Homo sapiens: one gene and its partners. The protein of the gene in region 1 interacts with the protein of each later gene in a pairwise test. Each region holds a gene or a part of one and is shown in the gene's direction. Other genes may lie near its edges. The genes, in order: FXR2, LASP1, CAPRIN1 and PIM1.

Region 1 (7,037 bases):
GTTAAAAACCACAAATCCCTAAATTCAGGCTAATCTTCCACTCTCAGTACCCTACAGATACTTATCCGTTTTGACCTTGCTGCTGATTTAATATTCATGACTCAGCAAACTTGGGATGGGTCAGGGAGTATTTACACTGCTTCTGGAATTGTACATTTGGGAAGGTCCCTTTCTCCTCTCTCAGAATTGGGCCCTGTTGTCAGTTTTCTTTTCTTTCTTTTCCTTTTTTTTTTATTTGAGACAGGGTCTCCCTCTGTCATCCAGGCTGGAGTACAGTGGCGTGATGTCGTCTCACTGCAGCCTCCGCCTCCCAGGTTCAAGTGATTCTTGTGCCTCAGCCTCCCGAGTAGCTGGGATTACAGGTGTGCAACACCATGCCTGGCTAATTTTTGTATTTTCAGTAGAGACGGGGTTTCGCTATGTTGGCCAGGCTGGTTTCTGACTCCTGACTTCAAGAGATTCGCCCGCCTTGGCCTCCCAAGGTGCTGGGATTACAGGCGTGAGCCACCACGCCCTCCCGTCAGTTTTCTTAAAGGATAAAATATTAGATCTGGGATCTAAGTTATTTTGTAGCTATCTGAAAATTAAGTTTGTCAGAATTTACTCTTTTTTTCCGTCCTTTTTTTTTTCATGTCAGACTGGCATCCGTAACAAGGGTTGAGGGAGGCATACCTCACCGTGAGCTTGAAACCGCAGTCATCATGCTTAAGACGTACAAAATGGCTTAAGACGTACAAAATGGCCTAATGTATTTTATTCTTTAAGTTGTACTCTCCCAAATGAAGTATTCACCGTCCAGGGCGCAATCTTCCTACTCCAAACCTCATCTGGATATCCTAATCCCCATTCCTTTCTTAATCAACATGGCATCCTCAGCTTCAGTACTTGGTTTTTACTCAGACTGTTCCTGCTCTTCTCCTAGAACCCCCTCCTTTGCTTTGGGAGTCTAGAACTAGAAGACGGTGAAGGTGGGGACCAATTTTATATCTTCTAATTTGAGGAAACCAAAGTACCTAGGAACCTGGGGCTCTCTCTTCCTCTGCTGGCTTGGTGCCAGGCTCCAGAAGCCAAAGCCAGGTGATGCTATGGCCACTGAATCAAGTTATCCTCTGGATCTAGGTGGCTCCCTAATACATTCCACCCACCTGCTCTTGCCTTCACCTGCTTATTTTCACAATGAGCGTAGACTGAGCAGAACTTGGGGCTCACTTCCACCACAGATACCCTTGGAGAAAAAAACTAGTATGGGATGAATGGGTGGAATTTAGGAGCAGAGACAGGATTGGAATATGAAGTTGGGGACAGAGCTAGTTTTGGAGACTAATTGAAGGAAAAAGACCCTGGAAATATAAGGGTTGAGTGAGATTTGGTTGAACTGCTGAGTAATGTGAGAGATTACTCCATTCTGAGCTTTGCATTTCTGCCTTGGAAGTCATGGTAGCTGGGAAAACTAGGGTAATATTGCTGCTCACCCTGGGGCCAAGCCTAACATGGTGGAGGAGAATTGGATTACACCATAGGCATAGCCGATTTGAATATATCTAGGAGTAGAAATCTCTCCACAAAAGCAGTAAATTAGTGATTCTCATCTCTGTCTCTTTTCCACTTCTTTCTGTCAGTGTAACTCCTGCCTTGATAAACTACTTCTAAGGCTTGGAGTAGACATTTTGGGTAAAGAACTGGATAAAGTCAGCGGAAGAGGCTGGTTGGAATAATTCTAGAAATCCAGACGACCCTGCAGCCTCTGCCTCCTGGCTTCAAGTGATTCTCATATCTCAGCCACCCTGAATAGCTGAGGTTACAGCCATGTGCCACCACGCCTGGCTAATTTATATATATGTGTGTGTGTGTGTGTGTATATATATACATACATGTATACATATACATGTATATATATATGTATACATATACATGTATATATATATGTATACATATACATGTATATATATGTATACATATACATGTATATATATACATATACATGTATATATACATATATATGTATGTGTATATATATGTATATGTATACATATATATATAGTAGCAATGGGGTTTTGCCATATTGGCCAGACTGGTCTCGAACTCCTGGCCTCAGCTGATCTACCGACCTCGGCCTCCAAGTGTTGGGATTACAGGGAAAAGAAGAGGGAATGGATAAAATATTAGTGGTTGTGGGAGTGGGGAGGACACTTGAGCAGGAGCTAAGGGAAGAACCCAAAAGGGAAGAGAGACCCAGGCAAGTAGAAGTAAAAGTGCCTCAGAAGACTTGAATGGAGAACAGTAGGAGTTGGCATTAAACCTGAATGAACATGCTCATAACTCAGGTTCTTTTTGAAAAAGGAAAAAAATCTGAATGAAGAGTAGAAAAAACATTTCTGGAGAAGAGAATGTCAGAGAAAGAAAAAGCATGGGTAAAAAAGAGGCCAGGAAGTACCAGTAGTAATTAAAGCCTTGGGCAGTAGTAAGGCTCTAAGAAAGAACATTCAGTCAAGAATGATCTTGACTGACTGCAGCCTCTATAGCAAGACATATCCCTAAAGACGAGAAAGGTGGCTTGTATGAAGAGTGAAATGCAGGCTTAGATTTTCCCATCGTAAGGAAATAGCAATCTGGTAAGTGTTTGTGATTGATTAGTTCTATGAGGTGGGAGCTGTGCATTTGCCAAGGGCATTTTTGGTGTTTTCTCTCCTAAGCTTAGCCTTTGTCCCTAGCAGCAAAGCTCATGAATAGTTCTTGTGTATTAGCCTTTTGAAACCTCTAATTCTTTTATTTTTGTTTATTTATTTTGTTTTTTGAGTCACGGTCTTGCTGTGTTGCCCAAGCTATGGAGTGCAGTGGTGCAATCACAGCTCATCACAGCCTCGACCTCCCTGGCTCAAGTGATCCTCCCACCTTAGCCTCCTAAATAGCTGGGACTACAGGCACAAGCCATCATACCCTGCTAATTTATAAATTTTTTGCAGAGATGAGGTTTCCCTGTGTTGTATGGGCTCTCTAATTTTTTTAAAAAACATCTTTATTGAGCTGAAATTGACATACAACAAAGTAGACATATTTAAAGTGTGCCATTTGTTAAGTTTTGACATGTATGTAACTGAGTCCATCACTGCAATCAAAGGAATGAACATTTCTGTCACTCCCAAAAGTCCTCCATCAACTACCAATCTTCTGTCATTATACATTAAATTGCCCTTCCTGATTTTCGATAGAAATGAAAAGGCAGTTCAATTCAGCTAAGAAAGGATAGTCTTGTCTTTTCTTTTCTTCTTTTCTTCTTTTTTTTTTTTTGAGGCAGAGTTTGCCCTGTTGTCCAGGCTGCAGTGCGATGGCATGATCTTGACTGACTGCAGTCTCTAACTCCTGGCTTCAAGTGATTTTCATGCCTCAGCCACCCTGAATAACTGAGGTTACAGCCATGTGCCACCACGCCTGGCTAATTTATATATTATTATTATTATTATTTTTTTTTTTTTTTAGTAGCAATGGGATTTTGCCATATTGGCCAGACTAGTCTCGAACTCATGGCCTCAGCTGATCTGCCAGCCTCGGCCTCCCAGTGTTGGGATTACAGGCGTGTGCTACCGCCCCTGGCCAGAAAGGATAGTCTTCAACAGACAGTGCTGGAACAAGATATCTTTAGGTAAAAAATGGGCTGGGCACAGTGGTCACACCTGTAATTCCAACATTCTTGGAGGCTAAGGCGGGTGCATTGCTTGAGTCCAGGAGTTCAAGACCAGCCTGGGCAACATAGCGAAACCCTGTCTCTATTAAAAAAAAATTTTAATTTAAAAATATATTAAAAATAAAAAAAAGTGGCCTGGTGCGATGGTTCATACCTGTAATCCCAGCACTTTGGGAGGCTGAGGCGGGTGGATCACCAGAGGTCGGGAGTTTGAGACCAGTCTGACGAACATGGAGAAACCCTGTCTCTCTTAAAAATACAGAATTAGCCAGGGTCGTGGCCCATGCCTGTAATCCCAGCTACTTGGGAGGCTGAGGCAGAATTGCTTGAACCTGGGAGGCGGAGGTTGCGGTGAGCCAAGGTTGCACCATTGCACTCCAGCGTGGGCAACAAGAGCGAAACTCTGTCTCAAAAAAATAAATAAGAATTTAAAAATTTAAAAAACATTGATCAATACCTCACCTTATATATAAAATTTAATTCAAAATGGATCATAGGCTGGGCACAGTGGCTCACATCTTTAATTCCAGCTTTGGGAGGCTGAGGCAGATGGATCACCTGAGGTCAGGAGTTCGAGACCAACCTGGCCAAGATGGTGAAACCCCGTCTCTACTAAAAATATAAAAAATTAGCCTGGTGTGGTGGCGGTTGCCTGTAATCTCAGCTACTCGTGAGGCTGAGGCAGGAGAATTGCTTGAACCCGGGGGGTGGAGGTTGCAGTGGGCCAAGATTGCGCCATTACACTCCAGCCTGGGTGACAGAGTGAGACTCTGTCTAAAAATAAAGGATTATAGATGTAAATGTAAAACAAAAAACTAAAAGTTTAAGAAGAAGACATAAGAGAAAACCTTTGTGGCCTTGGATTAGGCAAAGATTTCTTTTTCTTTTTCTTTTTTTTTTTTTTGAGATGGAGTTTTGCTCTTGTTGCCCAGGCTGGAGTGCAATGGCATGATCTTGGCTCACTGCAACCTCTGACTCTCAGGTTCAAGTGATTCTCTTTCCTCAGCCTCCCAAATAGCTGGGATTACAGACATGCACCACCACACCTGGCTAATTTTTGTATTTTTAGTAGAGACGGGGTTTCACCATGTTGGCAGGCTGGTCTCGAACTCCTGACCTCAGGTGATCTGCCTGCCTCGTCCTCCCAAAGTGCTGGGATTATAGGCGTGAGCCACTGTGCCTGGCCTGGGCAAAGATTTCTTAGATATGAAACCAAAAGCACAGTTGATAAAATAATAAATTCATAAGCTAGACCTTTTTCAAAATTAGAAATCCCTAATTGTATGTGAAAAATAGGGAGAAGGTAGAAAAATTGGGAGCATAGGGGTGAATGCATGGCTTTGGCCTCCTTAGTGAGGACACAGACCACAGGAGGTGGATCAGCTGTTCAGTCATCCCTCTTGCTCTTGTCAAAATATCAAGATTGGAGTCTTCCATAAATTTTATTATCCTTTATAAATTATCAGTGTCATTCTAGATTCAATTCTAGTATTAAAAAACCGATGTTTTTAAATTAAGTCTTAATTTTTCCTTCTGTAAATTGTGTTCATCACAATTTTGAACTTGTCTAGTGTTCCGATTATTGTCTTAGGACCCATGCATCAGGGCAGCGAGTCTGCTCAGATCTCTTGCTGTATTGCGGAGGTAGGCCCTTCTCTCTCGACAGATCCTCATGTCCTCTAGGTGTTCCAGGACAGCCTCACACTGTCTCATGGGATATTCTTAGCCTTGCTGAATGTTGTTGGTATTTTAATTGAACTCTGGCAGGCTGCTTAGCACAACAGGAGGCAGACAGATAGGGAGGCCCCTGTGGGAGCCTGAGTAGATCATTGGTTTCCAGGCTGTTCTGATGCAGGTGGTACATACACCTCTCCATGACAATATCATTTCCTTTCTCTGTTTGACTGCCCATATTCTTTCCCCAGTGCAGCCTTTCAGGCTGTCTCATTACACCACTTGTGTCCCTATCTAAAACTCAAGTTTAAGGTTTTGTGGTGTCTTATTCCCTTGATGGCTAAGGTGGAAGTAAAAGGTCATTTTATTTTTTTTGCTTTTTTCTAAAATCCATTCTAGGGCTTTGTGAAGGATGTCCATGAAGACTCTGTCACCATCTTCTTTGAAAACAAGTAAGACCTTGGGAATAGAGAATCCAGCATACTAGGTCCTAGAAGGAGAGTGGAGAAGAGGGGGCAGCTGAGTCCTATGAGGCATGTAATAGGTTGGGAGAGCTGAGGGTTTGGGTGGGAACTCATATGGATCCCAGGAGAGGAAAGGGCTGAGAATTTGGTGAGGGTGGGGGCATTTGACCCAGTATTTAGAGTCTAGAAAGAGATGGAAGACACTACTATGGAGCAGGGCCTGGGGTTTAGCCTCTAATTATCCAGATAGGTGGAACTCGCCCAGCTGAGGCAATAACCCTTTTGTAAAGAAATGGGCAACCATATCAGTCAGAGTAGCTTTTTCATATTATTGTTTCTATTATAGCTGGCAGAGTGAGAGACAAATTCCTTTTGGGGATGTCCGGCTACCACCTCCAGCTGACTATAATAAGGAGATCACAGAAGGGGATGAAGTGGAGGTAAGGGCTGTGGAGTACACCTTTCTAAATGTCACTTTTCCCCAGGATTCTAGGCTTTTCTCTGGTTGGTTCATGTTCCTTCCTCCCCAACTAAGCCATATCCAGCCATGTAGCCTATGGAAATGTAAAATGCAACAGTTCCCCTTTTATCACTGTTGTGATCAGCCAAACTCTCAGGAACATCCCCAGTTTCAGGCGATTTGCCTTCCATTTATGGTAACAACATCTAAAATCCAGTGCCCTCTGATTTTTTTGTTGTTGTTGTTGTTGTTGTTTTGAGATGGAGTCTTGCTCTGTTGCCCAGGCTGGAGTGCAGTGGCGCGATCTCAGCTAACTGCAACCTCCGCCTCTTGGGTTCAAGCAATTCTTCCACCTCAGCCTCCCAAGTAGCTGGGATTACAAGCACCTGCCATCATGCTCGGGTAATTTTTGCATTTTTGTAAAGACATGGTTTCACCATGTTGGCCAGGCTAGTCTTGAATTTCTGACTTCAGGTGATCCACCCGCCTCAGCTTCCCAAAGTGCTGGGATTACAGGCATGAGCCACCATGCCCTGCCGTCCTCTGATTTTAATTAGTTCCTTCCTCTGGTTTCTTGTATCCTTGGTTTAAGATACATCCCAGGCTGGATGCAGTGGCTCACACCTGAAATCCCAGCACTTTGAGAGGTCGAGTGGGGCAGATCACCTGAGGTCAGGAGTTCAAGACCAGCCTGGCCAACATGATGAAACCCCATCTCTACTAAAAATACAAAAAATTAGCTGGGCGTGGTGGCGGG
Region 2 (7,037 bases), about 31 Mb from region 1:
TGTGCACCTGCTTTGTATCTAGGGAGCTGTGTTGTCAAGAACCTCGCCACGTCCCTCTTTCCTGGCTTGCTTCCCCAGGTTTCTGAAAACAGGTGGAGGTAGAGGATTGGTCTGCTGCCAGTTCCCCTGGAATCCCCTGTTAGGGTGGGCTCTCTGCCTCTGCTTGTCTCAGCGCTCCCTCCCCACTCGAGGGGGTTGAAGTCCTCACAGCTGTGGTGCCCCGTTTTGCTAGCTGAAGCTTAGAGTACCCCACCATCATCTTGTGACCATCCCTTCATAATAGCTACTAGTTATCACGATATGCTGGGCTCAGTCTTCACAGCAGCCTCACAAAGTAGGTGTATTCGCTCTTGTAAACGATGCACTCCATAAATGGAGGCTCAGGTAGCCCATGTGGCTCATCTCCCTCTCTTAGAGCTGAAATTCACATCCACAGTTCTTTCTGCTCAGCTCTTCTGCCAGTGTGTTTGCAGAAAGTACTTTTATTTATACATATTTATATTTTATTTACATCTCATTTGTGCCAAAAGTAGGTCCCATCCCTTCCTGACCCTATCTGGAGGAATGCTCTGGGCCTGGGGTCTTGTATGGGGGCGTGGGGCCACTGGGAATAATCCTGTCCTCCTCGGAATTTGTGGAGGTGCAGCAAAGATCTATGCCTTTAAGCCAGCGGGTCAGGTGGCCAACCAAGCTAGGCTGGTGCCCCGGCCAGGGTGGGGCTGGCATTGCCTCTGCAGGAGGGAGAAACTGTAACCCTGGGCAACAGGAAGGGAAGAGATGGTCTCATAATCCATCCCTGAGTCATGGCCACCCCAGGTAGCCTGGGTTCAGAGGCCAAGGTGCCAGGCTGCAGGCACAGTGACACGAAGCTTGCCACATCCCCCCCAACCCAGAGCCACAGAGGGACAGGCTGTCCCAAGTGAGGGGTATCCTTGCAGGCTTCTGCCCCTACCAGCCTGTTTACCTTTCTTTAGAGTGGGTTGCAGGTAGGCAAGGGAAGATCAAGATGACCCTGCCTTGGAGCCTCGGATCCAGGCTGAGAGGCCTCTAACAGGCAGCAGAGGTAGGGTCTGTCTGGTTTCTGTGAACAGGGAAGCCATGGACTTTGCAGGCAGCAGGAAGGGGCAGAGGTGCATGCCTCGAGGTGCAGTTTCCTTGAGTCCTGAGGCCCAGGAATGCTTCGCTGAAATCATCTTGCCTGGGGCCTTTAAAAGAGGGGGGCTCTTGCTCTGGGACAGAGCCCATGGGGCAGGGCAGAGGCAGACGGGGTCACTGTGGGGTCCTCTGGACATATTTCCCTGACAGTGTCCTTCCCCAGACCCCATTGAGACAAGGCAGGAGTTCTTTCATCTTAGGGTCCAGGCTTGGCTCACAGCGGTTGTGGAGGGACTGGCCATTTTCTGCCTCCCCTCCCCACAATTTTCCTACCCCAAAAAGGACACAGTGGAAGGAGCTGGTGGGTTTTCTTGAACCTTGGGGCCTTCCTCCAGAGAGGGTAGGGGAGTCGCCTGAAGCTGCTGGAGGTGCCAAGCATTAGGGGTGGAACGGCCTCCTCTCCTGACCTTCCAGCACTCTGGGAGACAGTGGCTGCAGCTCCACTTGACACTTGTGCTTCATAGTAACTGGTTTCCATGTTTCTGCTCAGAGCCCCCTGCAGGGGGACAGGCGACCACCCTCCTCTGCCCCACCCTTGGGTGTCTGGATGAGAGTGTGGGGCCTGTGAGGGAGGTGGGAAGGAGCTACTGATAGAAATAGGTGCCATCCCCTAGAAGAGGGGCTCTGCTTCCTCCGCGTGGCAGCCTGGAGGGGTCTTTGGAACCACTGGGTCCAGTGTTGGCCCTGTGCCCCCTGCCTGCTCAGTACACCCCACCCTCCTTCTCCAAGGGGCTTGGCTCCGGGTGCAGGCCTGGCCATCTGGAGTAGGGGTCTCTCTCCCTTTGTCTCCCCAACGTCAATCAGGAGGCAGCCTTGGAGGTCCGTGGTCCTAGGACAGTGTGTAGCCCTTCGTGTGTGTGTGTGTGTGTGTGTGTGTGTGTGTGAGAAAGTGGGTCATGGTCTGGATTCTGGAGAATGTTTTTCCTGGCAGGCCCCTGTGGGGGTAGGGGGAGGCAGGGGCCCAGGCAGGGGCCTAGGCAGGGGCCTGTGCAGCTAAGTAGGCAGAGGCCAGCAGACTGGGTGGTGACCAGGCTGGGGCACCCTGCCAATGCCTCCCAGTTACTCGGGGAGGGAGTGGGGCTGTCACTTCAGGGGCCTGTGGGGGCAGGGACCAGCCTGTCTTAGTGTCCCTGGTGGGTTCTGTGTGTTGGGGTATGCACCACTTCAGGGGCCTGTGGGGGCAGGGACCAGTCTGTCTTAGTGTCCCGGTGGGTTCTGTCTATTGGGTTATGCACCAGAAGGAGTCTTTAAGTTGCCTCATAGGAGTTTGGGGGCCCTGGGTCACTGGGATAGGCCCAGGTTGGGGAGGGGGCCAAGCTTAGACCCGCCACTTCTTTGCTTCCAGACTTCCGGCTGGCCGTCCTCCCCAAGAGTGGTTCTCCTAGCATTCTGTTTAATATTCCACCATTAGGTTTTTCCTTTGGGTCTTCTTGATAGGGAACCAGTACCCTATTAGAAGGTGATTTCCCCCTGAAATTACCCTGGGGGTCTCTGGTTGAAGTGGGCCATGGTAGGGAGGTTGAATCCCAGATTCTCAGCCTTCTTTCTGCTATCCCCTCCTCCCAGTGTCTCAGAAGCACCTCTCCCTCCGGGGGTTTGGAGACAACATTTTGAAAAGCATCGCCTTGGGGGAATTCCTTGACAAATGGCCAAGAACCAGCTCTGTGGCTGGGCTCCTTCAAAAGTCCCCCTGGGCCTGCCTCCTGGCCTCCTTCTTTTGGAATGGGGAATGTCTCCCTTGACTACTGGGAAATGGGGCAGGGACAGGCCAGCCAGGTCACTCAGGTGGCCTGGATTATTCTGGGGTCCTGGCAGTGGACCCCTGTTTGGTGGTGATCCAGCACATCATCCTGGGCTTCTGGGGGTGAATTTAGATCCTGTTGTCATGGGTTTGCCTAAGCATCAATACTTCTCAGGGGTTCCACAAAGACCCCTCCAGGCTGCCACGTGGAGCCTGTTAGATCGTTTCTCTTTTTTTTTTTTTTTTTTTTGAGACAGAGTCTTGCTCTGTCACCCAGGCTGGAGTGCAGTGGCACAATCTTGGCTCACTGCAACCTCCACCTCCTGGGTTTAAGTGATTCTTTTGCCTCAGCCTCCCAAGTAGCTGGAATTACAGGCATGCGCCACCATACCCGGCCTATTTATTTATTTATTTATTTATTTATTTATTTTTGAGATTAAGTCTCGCTCTATACCCCAGGCTGGAGTGCAGTGGCATGATCTCAGCTCACCGCAATCTCTGCCTCCTGGGTTCAAGCGATTCTCCTGCCTCAGCCTCCCGAGTAGCTGGGATTACAGGCACGCCGTCACTGCACCCGGCTAATTTTTTTGTATTTTTAGTAGATACGGGGTTTCACCATGTTGGCCAGGCTGGTCTTGAACTCCCAACCTCCAGTAATCCGCCTGCCACAGCCTCCCGAAGTGCTCGGATTATAGGCGTGAGCCACCGCTCCCGGCTAGATCTGTTCTCTTTCTGTCATCACTCTCTTCCCTCCGTCGGCCACCCTGGATGGGCCCTGTGTCCCACATTCTCTTTTTTTTTTTTGAGACGGAGTCTTGCTCTGTCACCCAGACTGGAGTGCAGTGGCCTGGGTTCACGCCATTCTCCTGCCTCAGCCTCCCAAGTAGCTGGGACTACAGGCACCCGCCACCACGCCTGGCTAATTTTTTTGTCTTTTTAGTAGAGATGGGGTTTCACCATGTTAGCCAGGATGGTCTCGATCTCTTGACCTCATGATCCGCCCGCCTCGGCCTCCCAAAGTGCGGGATTACAGGCGTGAGCCACCGTGCCCGGCCGTGTCCCACATTCTCACACGCATGAATGGATTGGAGCTGTGGTTGGCACAGTGAAGCCCCTCTGCACCCCAACACACACAATCTCCAGTGTGAGCCCTGACCCCCTCGGCTAAGGTTCACACCTGCTGTGCCCAGCACCTGACATCTGAGTGCTCAGAGGTGCCAAGTGCTGTGCTGAGGGCTTTGAAGGTGATTTCTCCTCAGTCCTGGACAATCCCAGGAGGGCCAGGTGTTATTACATCCATTGTACACACCAGGAAGTGGGCTCCTCTGAGGTGCAGGGCCCCGCCCAAGGCCATACAGTTAGTGGGGTAGAGCTTTGATGTCCACTATAGGGGTGTCCACCTTCAAGGCTTTGAAGTAGAGCCCTTCAGTGCCTCAGTGGGAGACCCGCTGCCGGGTGCTCTCCTGCCCTCCTCCTGGGGTGGGAGAGGATGAGGGAAGGGTAGAAAGGATGTGTTGTGTTGACAGAGCCTGGGACACCCAGCCCACTCCTCTGGCCAGGCATCCCACAGGAAGTGGGAGGTATCGGAGCTGTAGCACCACCTGGGGCTCATGTGGGGCTGGTGGGTGTGCTGGGCCCTGGTACAGGAGCTAGGAGCACCTGGGTTCTGGGCCTGGGTGTGTGGGGGCTGGGCCTTCCTCTTCTGAGGCCTTGGTGCCACCAGAGGAGCTGCTCCTTCATGTTCAGCGGCTGCTCCCTAGCAACCCAGCGCAGCTTTGCATAAGCAATGAGGCCTCGCCAGCTCTGGGCAGGAGGGGTTCCCTGGGGAGGGTGGAGCTGACTTGGGGGCTGCTGCCACTGCTATAACTGGGCTCTTCCCCCCTGTCCTTCATGCCTGCCTGTCTCTTCCTCCTGGGTTCAAATGGCCCATTGGTGGAGGATGAGGAAGGAGAGAGGGGAGGGGAGTGCCAAAGCCTGTGACCTGAAATGCCCCCAGCTCACCTGGGATGATTCCATGTTCTCCCCACAGCCATGGGCCTAGGACAGTCCCAGCAGCTCCTGAGTGCCCCTTCCTAGGGCCTGAGCCCCTTTTTCAGAAGTCCTGGTATCTGATGTATGTCCTCCTGTCTCCATCCCCAGTTCTGGCATAAAGCATGCTTCCATTGCGAGACCTGCAAGATGACACTGAACATGAAGAACTACAAGGGCTACGAGAAGAAGCCCTACTGCAACGCGTGAGTCCTGTTCTGGGCAGGGGGCTGGGTGGGCACCTTGGCTCCCTCCCCGAGTGAGTTCTTCCTTTCCTTCCAATAACCGCAAGGTGACATTGGCGAACACTTCCATCCCCTACTTGAACATCACAGTTTGTCCTCACAACAGCTGAATGAAGCAAGCACTTTTTATCCCCATTTAAAGTGCTTTTATCCCCCATTTAAAGTGCATTTAAAGTACAGATGAGGAAACTGGGGCTTAGGGAAGGGAAGAGACTCTCAAGGTGGGATGGCTAGGGCAAGACAGGCTCTAACCCAATTTCGGGCAGTAAGGCGAGCACGTTTCTTTCCACTGTCCCCTGCTACAAAAGAGGGGGCTTTCCTCGTGGTCTTTCAAGAATGAGTGACGTGTCTGTTGTATTTGGGGTTGAGGACTTTGTTCTGTTTACCTTCCCTTATTTCTCTCCTCAAAATCGACAGTTTCCTTCTCTCACCTGGGTACTTCTAGGCTTTGGGGGCTCCTTCCTCCAGTGGTTCCTTCAAGAAAACTCTCTGGAAGCCTCATGCCAGCCCTTTTGGTGTTCATTTTTTGAGAATGGGCAGGGGTGCATAAAGGGTGTTGCCTGGGCCAGATAGATCTCTTCCCTGCCTGGTGAGGGAGGCTGTGGAGACTGTTTCTTTTGAGTATAGTCATCTTGAGTATAGTGCAGCTCTGTTCCTTCTGCACTGGGACCTGCAGCAGCTGACGGTAGGGAGGGAGTATAGAGGTGGGGTCCCCCATCCCAGAGCCTGGAGGAATACCTCCCCTCCCATCCCATCCCATCCCATCCCATGCAATCCCAGAAAGTACAGCAATTTTCCATCTTCCAATTGACCTTGTGAGTAGCAAGTACAAACTCAGTGTTGGGGCCTCACAGCCGCCTCCACCTGCGAGGTGGAGGCTTTGGAAGGTCAAGTCACTTATAAGTAATGATGTAATGATAATTTCTTTTTCTTTTAATTTGCTTTTTTTTTTTTTTTTGAGTCAGAGGACTCATCACCCAGGTTGGAGTGCAGTGGCGCGATCTTGGCTCACTGCAACCTCCGCCTCTTGGATTCAAGCGATTCTTGTACCTAAGCCTCCTGAGTAGCTGGGATTACAGATGCATGCTACCATGCCCAGCTAATTTTTGTATTTTTTAGTAGAGACCGGGGTTTCACCGTGTTGGCCAGGCTGGTCTCGAACTCCTGACCTCAAGTGATGCACCGCCTCAGCCTCCCAAAGTGCTGGGATTACAGGTATAAGCCACCTCGCCCAGCCTTAATTCGATTTTTTTTTTAATTTTAACTTTTTTTTTTTTAACTTCAACCAACTCAAGTAATGGTAATTTCAGTGTTCACATGAATTTAGGATCTGACTTGAGTCCAGTTTTTTTTTTTTTTCTCTTAATTCTCAGTCAGGAGGCTCTTTGCAGCTGAAGTTCACCCAGGGAAAAAAAAATTTGGGACTTGTCTAAAAAGGGGGCTTAAACCTCCAGCCTTACCCCTAACCTTACCCCAAACCTTCCTTGCTTCCTTACCCCCTCCCGTTCCCTGGCTAAGACCACTCTTTCATCTTTTTAGGGGCTCGCTCATTCAGCAGACATTTATTGCCTGCCTGCTGCTATAATACATACTAACCTGCACCAGGTGCTGGGAAAACAGATTCCTGATAAAAATCTCAAGCCCAAGAAGCAACATGAAGTTGTCCCTTCTGGAAGAAGGAGGGCACTGGGCAGGTTATCTGGGTAAAGGAAGGGTTGCAGCTCTGTCCTGGCCCCTCCTTCAGCTGCCCCTTCTCTTCTATTAATTTCTACTGTTCCTCTTCCCCCTACCAACCCCTCCCACCCCCACAAGGGAAATGGGACATTCTTCGAATTCTTAAGGGCTCACACAAGCCCTGGTTCTCTGCC
Region 3 (7,039 bases), on another chromosome or scaffold:
CTTGCCACTGCACTCCAGCCTGGGCGACAGAATGATACTCCATCTCAAAAAAATAAATAAATAAAATAAAATAAAAATAAAATTTTTATTTTTTAGATGCTGGGTTTTACTCTGTTGTCCACGCTGGAGTGTAGTGACATGATATTGCATCCTCGAACTACTGGGCTCAACTAATGCTCTCATTTCAGCCTCCCGAGTAGCTGGGATTTCAAGCACATACCACTGTGTTTACTTTTACATTGAGTAAAGTGTGTAGCTTCTAAGAGTGTTCAATAACAAACAACAGTATTTCGTGAAATCTGAAATAACTATTCTGAACATATTGTACCTCTACAAAACATGAAGTCCTGTTTCTAAGCATAATATTACACGCAAGAAAAGGTGGACATAGGAAAATATAAGCGGAAAAGGATGTTATCTCAGCTGATGACCAAAATGTAAGAATTCAGAGACAGTATGGACCAATAGTAATAATAATATTAAAACCGTACTGATATGTTAATACAGTAGGCAATACTTAGTGACAAAATAGTTGTGCCAGGCATGCTATTGCTTATGAGGATCCAGAGATGGAAAAACAAAACGACTGCTCTTTTTCTTTGAAAAGCTTAGAGTTTAGTGGTGGTTCATGGACACATAGACAATCATTGATTGAATTACAATAAAAAAGACTGTACTGGAAAAATTATGATAGAAATGTCTACTCCTGACTTGTAGTAAAATGATGGAAAAACAAATTTAAGAAACTTTAAGAGCCTTAGCTATGTGAACAGTGTAGTTCACACTTTGGTCAGGTTTCTGTCAACCTGAAACAAAGAGGCAGTTCATATAATTCAGATGAAGATTCCTCTCTTTTGCTACAAATAAGCATTAGCTTATTGGGTGACTCAAGTTCAAGCAGTTGAATTATTTTGCTAAAATGATCAGGATAAATAGTTTAATTATTCACTTTGTGGAAACTTCAAAGTGCTGTGGTCTAATGAATTGAACAAGCAAATGTCAGCTTGAAAGATTTGTTATTGAAATATATTATTTTGCATATTGTTGTATTTGCTTTATGTTAATATATTTAATATTGGCATATATTAAAGTATACCAAGGTTTTTAAATTTATAAACCATTTATAAACATATTCTGCTCCTCCAGTGTGTTTTCTGGGAACCCTTTATTTCTTCAATGATGCAATGACTGCAAGTTACTGCATAGCTCTGTACTAGAAAAAAGGGTTTAAAAAATGAGTATTTAAAATTCACATAAACATAGCTTCAGTCAAGTAGGAAATACACAAATTTGAATGACTGAGACCTTGGCATTGATCTGGGCAGGAAGTGAGCTTTAGGACACAGCTTTGCCTTAAATTTATTGGTCTTTCTGGACTTGCTGACCTGAACAGACAAACGCAGAATGTCAGAACACCAATGAAATGGGATTGGGATGATATAGGAAGTGAAAGCGTGACAGCTTCATATATTCACCAAATATTTCTGGCTCATCTGCTTCCTACCCGGCATCTGATAGAATACCATCTCTTGACTCCCTTATAGTTGGATAGGGTCATGTGACTCTTTTTGGCCAATGAATTTAAGCAGATGTGATGCATATCTACTTGTCTAAAGCATTTAATTGACTGAGATATTCCTGAGTTCTCTTGTGGTACAGTGATCAGCAACACTTGAGATATGGCATCAGCATGAATCTACTGAGTGACTACTACGAACAGGGCCCTCTGTTGAACTGTGATGGATGTGTACCATTTGCAGTTGTTTTTTGTTTTTTGAGACAGTCTCACTCTGTTGCTTAGGCTGGAATGCAGTGGCACAATCTTGGCTCACTGCAGCCTCTGCCTCCCGGGTTCTCGTGCCTCAACCTCCTGAGCAGCTGTAATTACAGGCATGCGCCACCACACCCAGCAAATTTTTTTGTATTTTTAGTAGAGACAGGATTTGCCATATTGGCCAGGCTGGTCTCGAACTCCTGACCTCAAGTGATCTGCCAGCCTTGGCTTCCCAAAGTGTTGGAATTACAGGCATGAGCCCCTTCACCTGGCCCCTTTGTAGTTTTAAACCAGGGATTGGCAAACACTTTTTTTGTAAAAGAAGAGATAGTATTCTAGGTTTTGCACACCCTACTGTCTGTTGCACACCCAAGTACTCAACTCTGCTGTGCTATGGCAGAGAGGCAGTCATAGAATGGATGTGCATAGATGGATTGGATGTCTCCCAATAAAACTTTAGACATTGGTCAATTCCGAGGAACAAAACAGTGATTTCTGAAACTTTAATGTACACACAAATCTCCTGAAGATCTTGTTAAAATGTAGATTCAGTTAAGTCTGCTATGCAGTCCAAGATAGTAGTGATAGTGGTAGTGAGAGAGGTTGGGCTGAATAAACTTTGAGTTGCAAGGAGCTAAAGGATTATCATCTCCGTTTCTAGCCTCTAGGCCTGGCATAATTGCTCAGCGTAGTGCTAAGGATGGTTTAGGTGACTAAATTTTGAAACTATGACTCCCCATCTAATGCAGCAAAAGCCAAAGTCCTTACCGTGGTCTTTCAGGCCCTACAAGACCAGCCCCCTTTAATATGTTTGACCTCATCTCCTACTCTCTGCTCTTGCCACTATGGTTTCCGTGCTGTTCCTTGAACCCAAAAAGCACACTCCGTCTCAGATCTTAGTACTTGGTGTTTCCTCTACCTGGAAAATTCCTCCTCCAAGGTAGCTGCTTAGCCTTCTTCCTCACTTCCTTCAGTACTAGCTCAAATGTCAGTAAGGCTTTCCCTGACCACCGTTTTTTCTTTTCTCTACCATTTCACTATCTGACATGTATTTACTTGTCTTCCCCTTACTTAGATTGTAAGCTCCATGTAAATATGTTTTGTTCATAATCCCTAGCACTTAAGAGTTCCCAGCACACAGTAAGGTGCTTAATAAATATTTGAATGAATATATAACAGACTTTGCAGCTAACCAGGATATCTTGAGGTCGGAGGCTGCTGTTGTTTCTCCAGGCTCCCTCAGGATGCACTGTTGCCAGTCAGCGTTACTCATTTTATTCCCTAGGGAACAGTGGGTTTGGTAGAACTCTCTTCTAAATCTCTTTTTCATAGAATTTAAATTATAAATTGGTCATTTACTGTTGTCACACAATATTGCGTTGCTGAATTTTCCACTGATTATATTCATTTTATTTCCTCCCAGAACTTGGTTTCTTGTTTTTCTGCTCACTGTCCACACCCACTCCACCCCAAGGCTGGAATAATTCTCTTGGAGCAAAAAAATCATCTTTTTCTTTGTATTTCATTGAACGTTCTCTTTACAGTGTTAGGTAAACCTAAAAAAAAAGGAAACAAAAGTCTAATAATTCGTAATACTCAGGCCTACTGGATGTATAACATCATAGGGTAGCTGAAGACTCTTTGTGAGGCCAGAGCTTTAGGATTTAAAAAGCCACCAACCATGACCGTGTCCGACACGTTCTACAGAGAACTCCTAGGTTACTGGGTGATTGTTTGGTGGGGAAGCGGCGAGTTGTCTTTTTTTCAAAAGACGTTTTGGGGTATGGAGTTTGCTCGCTCTGCATACAGAAGGAATTCTAGAAGCTGGGATCGCACCACCCACCCCACGCACCCCTTACTTGCAGAAACCTTTGCCCCCCAACCCCCACCCCCACCCCAAATAAGGGCTCTTCAAGGGGCAGTTGCCAGCTCCAGAGCCAGCTGCTTGACACCTATTGTCCCCGTTTGGGCGTCAAACGATTTCGCCTGAAGGACCCTAGCGTCGATTGCTCTCAAAACTCAAGGGGCCTTTCCTTCGGCCTTGCCGGGGCCATCCCCACCTGCGTCCAGGAGGCGCCCCACAGCGCCGGGGCCGGGGGACGGCGGAGAAGCTAGCGGGCGGCCTCTTCCGGGCAGGCGTTCGCGCCGGGCAGCCCGAGCGGCCGCGAAGGCCCCCGCTCTCCGCTTCTCCCGCCCCTCGCGACCCAGAGGGCTGCTGGCTGGCTAAGTCCCTCCCGCTCCCGGCTCTCGCCTCACTAGGAGCGGCTCTCGGTGCAGCGGGACAGGGCGAAGCGGCCTGCGCCCACGGAGCGCGCGACACTGCCCGGAAGGGACCACCACCCTTGCCCCCTCAGCTGCCCACTCGTGATTTCCAGCGGCCTCCGCGCGCGCACGGTGAGCGCCACCCGGGACCGAGCCGCTGCAGGGGAAGAGGGCCGCTGCGCCCGGGTGTCCTTTATCTCCGGACCCGCTGGAGCTTCCGAGGGGCTTGCCCCCAAGTCCCCCCACCCCACCCCGGTCATTTCCCATGCCCTTCTCTGCCCCCAAGCCCCGACCTCTCTCTTTCCTCCCTTCTCCGGAAGCCGGCAAAAGCCGGCCCTCCCCGGTAGGGACCGTTGCAGTGGCCGTTGGCGGCCGGCGCGGCGATGCCCCGCCTCCGGCGCGAGCCTCGGAGCCCCCGGGCTGGTAGGCCGAGCCGGCGGCTCCGCGGGGGAGGGGCGGGTCGGGGGGCGGTGCGAGGCCCAGCCGGGCGCCCCGCTGGCGGGTCGCGCGCGCGCCCGCGCACTCTTCCTGCCCTCGAGGCGCGCCGCGCCCCCTCCCCCACCCGCTCGCGTAGGCTACCGCTCGCTGCGCGTTTTGTCCCGCGTCTCGCCCCGTCCGTCTCCTGACTGGCCGCTCTTGTCCTTCCTCCCGCTTTTTCTTCTCTCTCCTTGCGGTCTGAAGATGCCCTCGGCCACCAGCCACAGCGGGAGCGGCAGCAAGTCGTCCGGACCGCCACCGCCGTCGGGTTCCTCCGGGAGTGAGGCGGCCGCGGGAGCCGGGGCCGCCGCGCCGGCTTCTCAGCACCCCGCAACCGGCACCGGCGCTGTCCAGACCGAGGCCATGAAGCAGATTCTCGGGGTGATCGACAAGAAACTTCGGAACCTGGAGAAGAAAAAGGTGCCAGGAGTTGGCGGGGAAGGGAGGGGTGGCTGCGGCCGGGCTCTGCGGCCCCTCCGACCCTGGTCGCTGGAGCCTTCGCTTCTTTTCGTCTCGGGAGCGTTACTAGGTCCCCTCCTCCCACCCCCTGGCCCACACGCCCCGTCTCCACGTTCAGCGGGAGCTTCGTGCCCAGAAAACGGGCTCTTGGAAGAGGCACTTGTCACCTGACTCGGACGCGGCACTGTACCCCAGGCCTCTTTATTACTCTTCCGCTGTGGGTCCGGCTTTTTGGCCTTTAGGAGTGGGACATGTGAGGGTGGGGGCCTGTCGTCAGGACTTCACTGTATGGTGCCCTTCTTTCCGTCTCTGAGGCCCGATTTCTCTGACGAGGGCCCAAAATGAAGAGGTCCCTGCGCGGGGGGCTCCGGGTTCAACCGACCGCCTCGTGGAGTTGGGGCGGCCTGCGTCCTGCAGCCTTGGGGTCTGTCCGCTCGGTTACCATGCACTCGAGACCTGTCGAGCGTCCCCTCTTCTTCCGTAGGAGAGAAGTGTGTTTAGAATCTTAAGGTAGAACTGCCTTTCCGGCAGGCCCATTTTGAATGGGTCTTCGATTTGCTACCCCCGCGCCCATGCGATGGGCTCCCCTGCGTTTCCCTCTTTGTTTCAATTGTTTAGGTGTCCCCCCGAGCCTCAGGCTCAGCTCAATCGCGAGATGATTTTCTGCAGCGACTTTTTGTTCCTAGGGGACTGTGAAGGGGCGGGGGACTGCCACGATTTAGATTCGTTGGGGGCTGGGTCCTGGGGAGACTGGAGAGGATGGCTGGGACTCGGGGCACATGGAGAGAGCGTCTAACATGGCGGCGGCTGCGGGGAGAGGGAAGCGCTTTACTGGAGCTGCATTGTGAGCACAAAGCGAAAGCAGAGGGGGAGGGCAGAGACCAGGCAGCCGCCCCGACTGGCCTCCTTAGGCCCCCCTCTAAAAAAAAAAAAAATCGAGCCACACCCACGATTTTTTGGATTCAATATTTAGTCCTTGTAGATCAAACTACTGAGGTATATCTTCATCTGCAAGTCAGCCTTTTGTTTTATGCTTTCATCGCAGGACAGTGTAAACTCTTGTTTAGAGGGGCGTGTGTATGTATGTAGAGAAAAGGTCTGGGCAGAGTGAATAATTAAAATGAGTAAGATCAGAGGTGGAAGGGGAGAAACAAATTAGTCGTTTGTAAAAACGAGGTAATTACGTCTGTGACTATCATGTTAACTTGAATTTTACCTTATAAAGTAAAATGAAGCCTTGATAACTTCTACTTGTCTGCCTCTAGGAAAACATATTTATAACATCTTGAATTTCCAGGAAATCATTTTGCAGTGTTTATGTGGCCAGACACCTAATAGTGTTACTTGAGGTGCTGATATAGTAACTGGCTAAAACTTGGGCTGTGGGAAATAAGTTGAAGAAAACTGGTGATGTTTAGGTCTTATTAATTTTACTTATATATTTTACATTTTGGGAGAGTTTTAAAACATTTAGATTTGATACTTCCCTGTTTCATCTTCGGTATTGAAGGTTGGAAGTTTTACTTGAATTTCATGGACTTGGGATTTCTTTTTTTTCCCAATCCTTTATTTTGATAAATGTATGTTTTATTATAGGTAATTGGAATAGTAAATGTAGTTACATCAAGAAAGTAACAAAAGTATTTTAAGTGTAAGGTAGCTACATTCAAATGTTGAATGGAATAAGCATGCCCAAGGCCAGTATCTTCTGAGTCTGACACATGATTTAGTTTACCCTGTTGGGTATCTTCTTAAATTTTTTTTTTTTTGAGACGGAGTTTCGATCTTTTTGCCCAGGCTGGAGTACAATGGCGCGATCTCAGCTCACTGCAACCTCCACCTCCCGGGTTCAAGCGATTCTCCTCCCTCAGCCTCCCAAGTAGCTGGGAGTACAGGTGCCTGCCACCACGCCCAGCTAATTTTTTGTATTTTTAGTAGAGACAGGGTTTCACCCTGTTGGCCAGGATTGTCTCGATCTCTTGACCTCCTGATCCGCCCGCCTTGGTCTTCCAAAGTGCTGTTACAGGAGTGAGCCCCTGTGCCCGGCCTCTTTTTAAAATTTTAATG
Region 4 (2,814 bases), on another chromosome or scaffold:
TCAGGCAGAGGGTCTCTTCAGGTAACTGATGGAAACCCCTGGCCATGGGGTTATTGGTCTTAATGGGGCTATTAGTCTTCATGGGACAGTCTTTGAAATTCTGGAGAGCTTCACTCTCCAGTAGATTCTGTCACCCTTGGCTTAGAATTGTAGGTGAGTGATTTACACTTGAGCTGGCCTCATAAATCACATGGTTTGCACTTGAGCTTTCCTTGGGAGGTCAGAGGAAGGCATGTGTGAGCATATTAAGAAGAAAAGACAATCTGGCTTCTCCAAAAACTTTTTTAAAGGTACCAACAGAAACCTGATAATTCCTGGCTGTTTTGCCAGGGAGTAAAAAGTTAAAAGCTCTTTTAGCATCTTCTTTAAGGCAGCAGCTCCAAATATTTTGGTACCAGTGACCTCACTGTGGGTGGTGTTCGTGTTTGTAAGTTGGTAGGTGAATTGAATCATTTCATCATGCTCAGTGGTGTCTCATCAAAATCTCTTGTCATCATCCTTCCTATTTCTGGTGAGTGGGTGTTGTGGGAAAGGCCCCCACTATTGAAGTTTGAAAACCACAGGTTTAAGAGGGGAGTCAGTTTTTAGCTGAAAGCAGACTGGAGGACCCAGATATTAGTCAATACCTTCCTATTGAAGGGTACCCAGCACAGTGTTCTAGAAAATGCTTGGCCTCCCTGGGACCCCAGACTTGTGGGCCTCTGAGAAGCAAATGGGGAAGACCTTTGCAGTGTAAAAACAAGTTGAGTCATTCATAACCTCGTCTATCCTCCTTTCTGCAGAATGTCAGCATCTCATTAGATGGTGCTTGGCCCTGAGACCATCAGATAGGCCAACCTTCGAAGAAATCCAGAACCATCCATGGATGCAAGATGTTCTCCTGCCCCAGGAAACTGCTGAGATCCACCTCCACAGCCTGTCGCCGGGGCCCAGCAAATAGCAGCCTTTCTGGCAGGTCCTCCCCTCTCTTGTCAGATGCCCGAGGGAGGGGAAGCTTCTGTCTCCAGCTTCCCGAGTACCAGTGACACGTCTCGCCAAGCAGGACAGTGCTTGATACAGGAACAACATTTACAACTCATTCCAGATCCCAGGCCCCTGGAGGCTGCCTCCCAACAGTGGGGAAGAGTGACTCTCCAGGGGTCCTAGGCCTCAACTCCTCCCATAGATACTCTCTTCTTCTCATAGGTGTCCAGCATTGCTGGACTCTGAAATATCCCGGGGGTGGGGGGTGGGGGTGGGTCAGAACCCTGCCATGGAACTGTTTCCTTCATCATGAGTTCTGCTGAATGCCGCGATGGGTCAGGTAGGGGGGAAACAGGTTGGGATGGGATAGGACTAGCACCATTTTAAGTCCCTGTCACCTCTTCCGACTCTTTCTGAGTGCCTTCTGTGGGGACTCCGGCTGTGCTGGGAGAAATACTTGAACTTGCCTCTTTTACCTGCTGCTTCTCCAAAAATCTGCCTGGGTTTTGTTCCCTATTTTTCTCTCCTGTCCTCCCTCACCCCCTCCTTCATATGAAAGGTGCCATGGAAGAGGCTACAGGGCCAAACGCTGAGCCACCTGCCCTTTTTTCTGCCTCCTTTAGTAAAACTCCGAGTGAACTGGTCTTCCTTTTTGGTTTTTACTTAACTGTTTCAAAGCCAAGACCTCACACACACAAAAAATGCACAAACAATGCAATCAACAGAAAAGCTGTAAATGTGTGTACAGTTGGCATGGTAGTATACAAAAAGATTGTAGTGGATCTAATTTTTAAGAAATTTTGCCTTTAAGTTATTTTACCTGTTTTTGTTTCTTGTTTTGAAAGATGCGCATTCTAACCTGGAGGTCAATGTTATGTATTTATTTATTTATTTATTTGGTTCCCTTCCTATTCCAAGCTTCCATAGCTGCTGCCCTAGTTTTCTTTCCTCCTTTCCTCCTCTGACTTGGGGACCTTTTGGGGGAGGGCTGCGACGCTTGCTCTGTTTGTGGGGTGACGGGACTCAGGCGGGACAGTGCTGCAGCTCCCTGGCTTCTGTGGGGCCCCTCACCTACTTACCCAGGTGGGTCCCGGCTCTGTGGGTGATGGGGAGGGGCATTGCTGACTGTGTATATAGGATAATTATGAAAAGCAGTTCTGGATGGTGTGCCTTCCAGATCCTCTCTGGGGCTGTGTTTTGAGCAGCAGGTAGCCTGCTGGTTTTATCTGAGTGAAATACTGTACAGGGGAATAAAAGAGATCTTATTTTTTTTTTTATACTTGGCGTTTTTTGAATAAAAACCTTTTGTCTTAACTCGTGGCTTCTAATCGTCTGTGCGGAGGCATTGCTAACCTGCATTTATTGAGCATTTGGTAAGTGCCAAAGAATTGTAGGAGAAAGGAATTCTCAGCCTAAATCTGGCTTCCTTCAACATTGGGATTTCTAGGATAGTCATCTTCCTGAAACGAATGTATGGTCAAGGGGTAGGACCAGTATTGTCAAAATTTGGGCAATATCTGGCATGGGAGGCCTAATAAAATAACCTTTTCCAGATTACAATTTTAAAGCTATGCAAATAGGATAGATGTGACAATTTTCAAGTGTTCAATAGCCATTTATGGCTAGTGGCCACCTCATATAAAACATCATTGCAGAAAGTTCTATTGGATGGGGCTGATCTAGAGATAACAAATACATACCTATTACCAAACTAACCCTTGAAGCTTTTATCAGTTGTCTGCCACTGATAGTAAAACATTTTGAGCATGTCCCCTTGGTACACGTGAAGTTTATTGAAAAACTATTGCCTCTATTACTCTCGGTTCCTGATTCAAGTTTCCTTCACCTTTA

The links.
Region 2: the proteins of FXR2 (region 1) and LASP1 interact in binary tests that used the Homo sapiens proteins (3 or more experiments, as listed by UniProt).
Region 3: the proteins of FXR2 (region 1) and CAPRIN1 interact in binary tests that used the Homo sapiens proteins (3 or more experiments, as listed by UniProt).
Region 4: the proteins of FXR2 (region 1) and PIM1 interact in binary tests that used the Homo sapiens proteins (3 or more experiments, as listed by UniProt).

Annotation. Positions count from the first base shown.
Region 1 is NC_000017.11:7,604,868-7,611,904, reverse strand, and holds part of FXR2 (RNA-binding protein FXR2), read left to right. Parts: intron 1-631; exon of another isoform or gene 632-724; intron 725-5,755; coding exon 5,756-5,808; intron 5,809-6,166; coding exon 6,167-6,260; intron 6,261-7,037. UniProt on the Homo sapiens protein: mRNA-binding protein that acts as a regulator of mRNAs translation and/or stability, and which is required for adult hippocampal neurogenesis. Specifically binds to AU-rich elements (AREs) in the 3'-UTR of target mRNAs.
Region 2 is NC_000017.11:38,873,051-38,880,087, forward strand, and holds part of LASP1 (LIM and SH3 domain protein 1), read left to right. Parts: intron 1-829; exon of another isoform or gene 830-1,063; intron 1,064-5,035; coding exon 5,036-5,130; intron 5,131-7,037. UniProt on the Homo sapiens protein: Plays an important role in the regulation of dynamic actin-based, cytoskeletal activities.
Region 3 is NC_000011.10:34,047,704-34,054,742, forward strand, and holds the start of CAPRIN1 (caprin-1), read left to right. Parts: upstream 1-4,027; 5' UTR 4,028-4,168; intron 4,169-4,329; exon of another isoform or gene 4,330-4,421; intron 4,422-4,596; exon of another isoform or gene 4,597-4,717; coding exon 4,718-4,933; exon of another isoform or gene 4,934-5,624; intron 5,625-7,039. UniProt on the Homo sapiens protein: mRNA-binding protein that acts as a regulator of mRNAs transport, translation and/or stability, and which is involved in neurogenesis, synaptic plasticity in neurons and cell proliferation and migration in multiple cell types.
Region 4 is NC_000006.12:37,173,152-37,175,965, forward strand, and holds the end of PIM1 (serine/threonine-protein kinase pim-1), read left to right. Parts: coding exon 1-21; intron 22-782; coding exon 783-940; 3' UTR 941-2,277; downstream 2,278-2,814. UniProt on the Homo sapiens protein: Proto-oncogene with serine/threonine kinase activity involved in cell survival and cell proliferation and thus providing a selective advantage in tumorigenesis.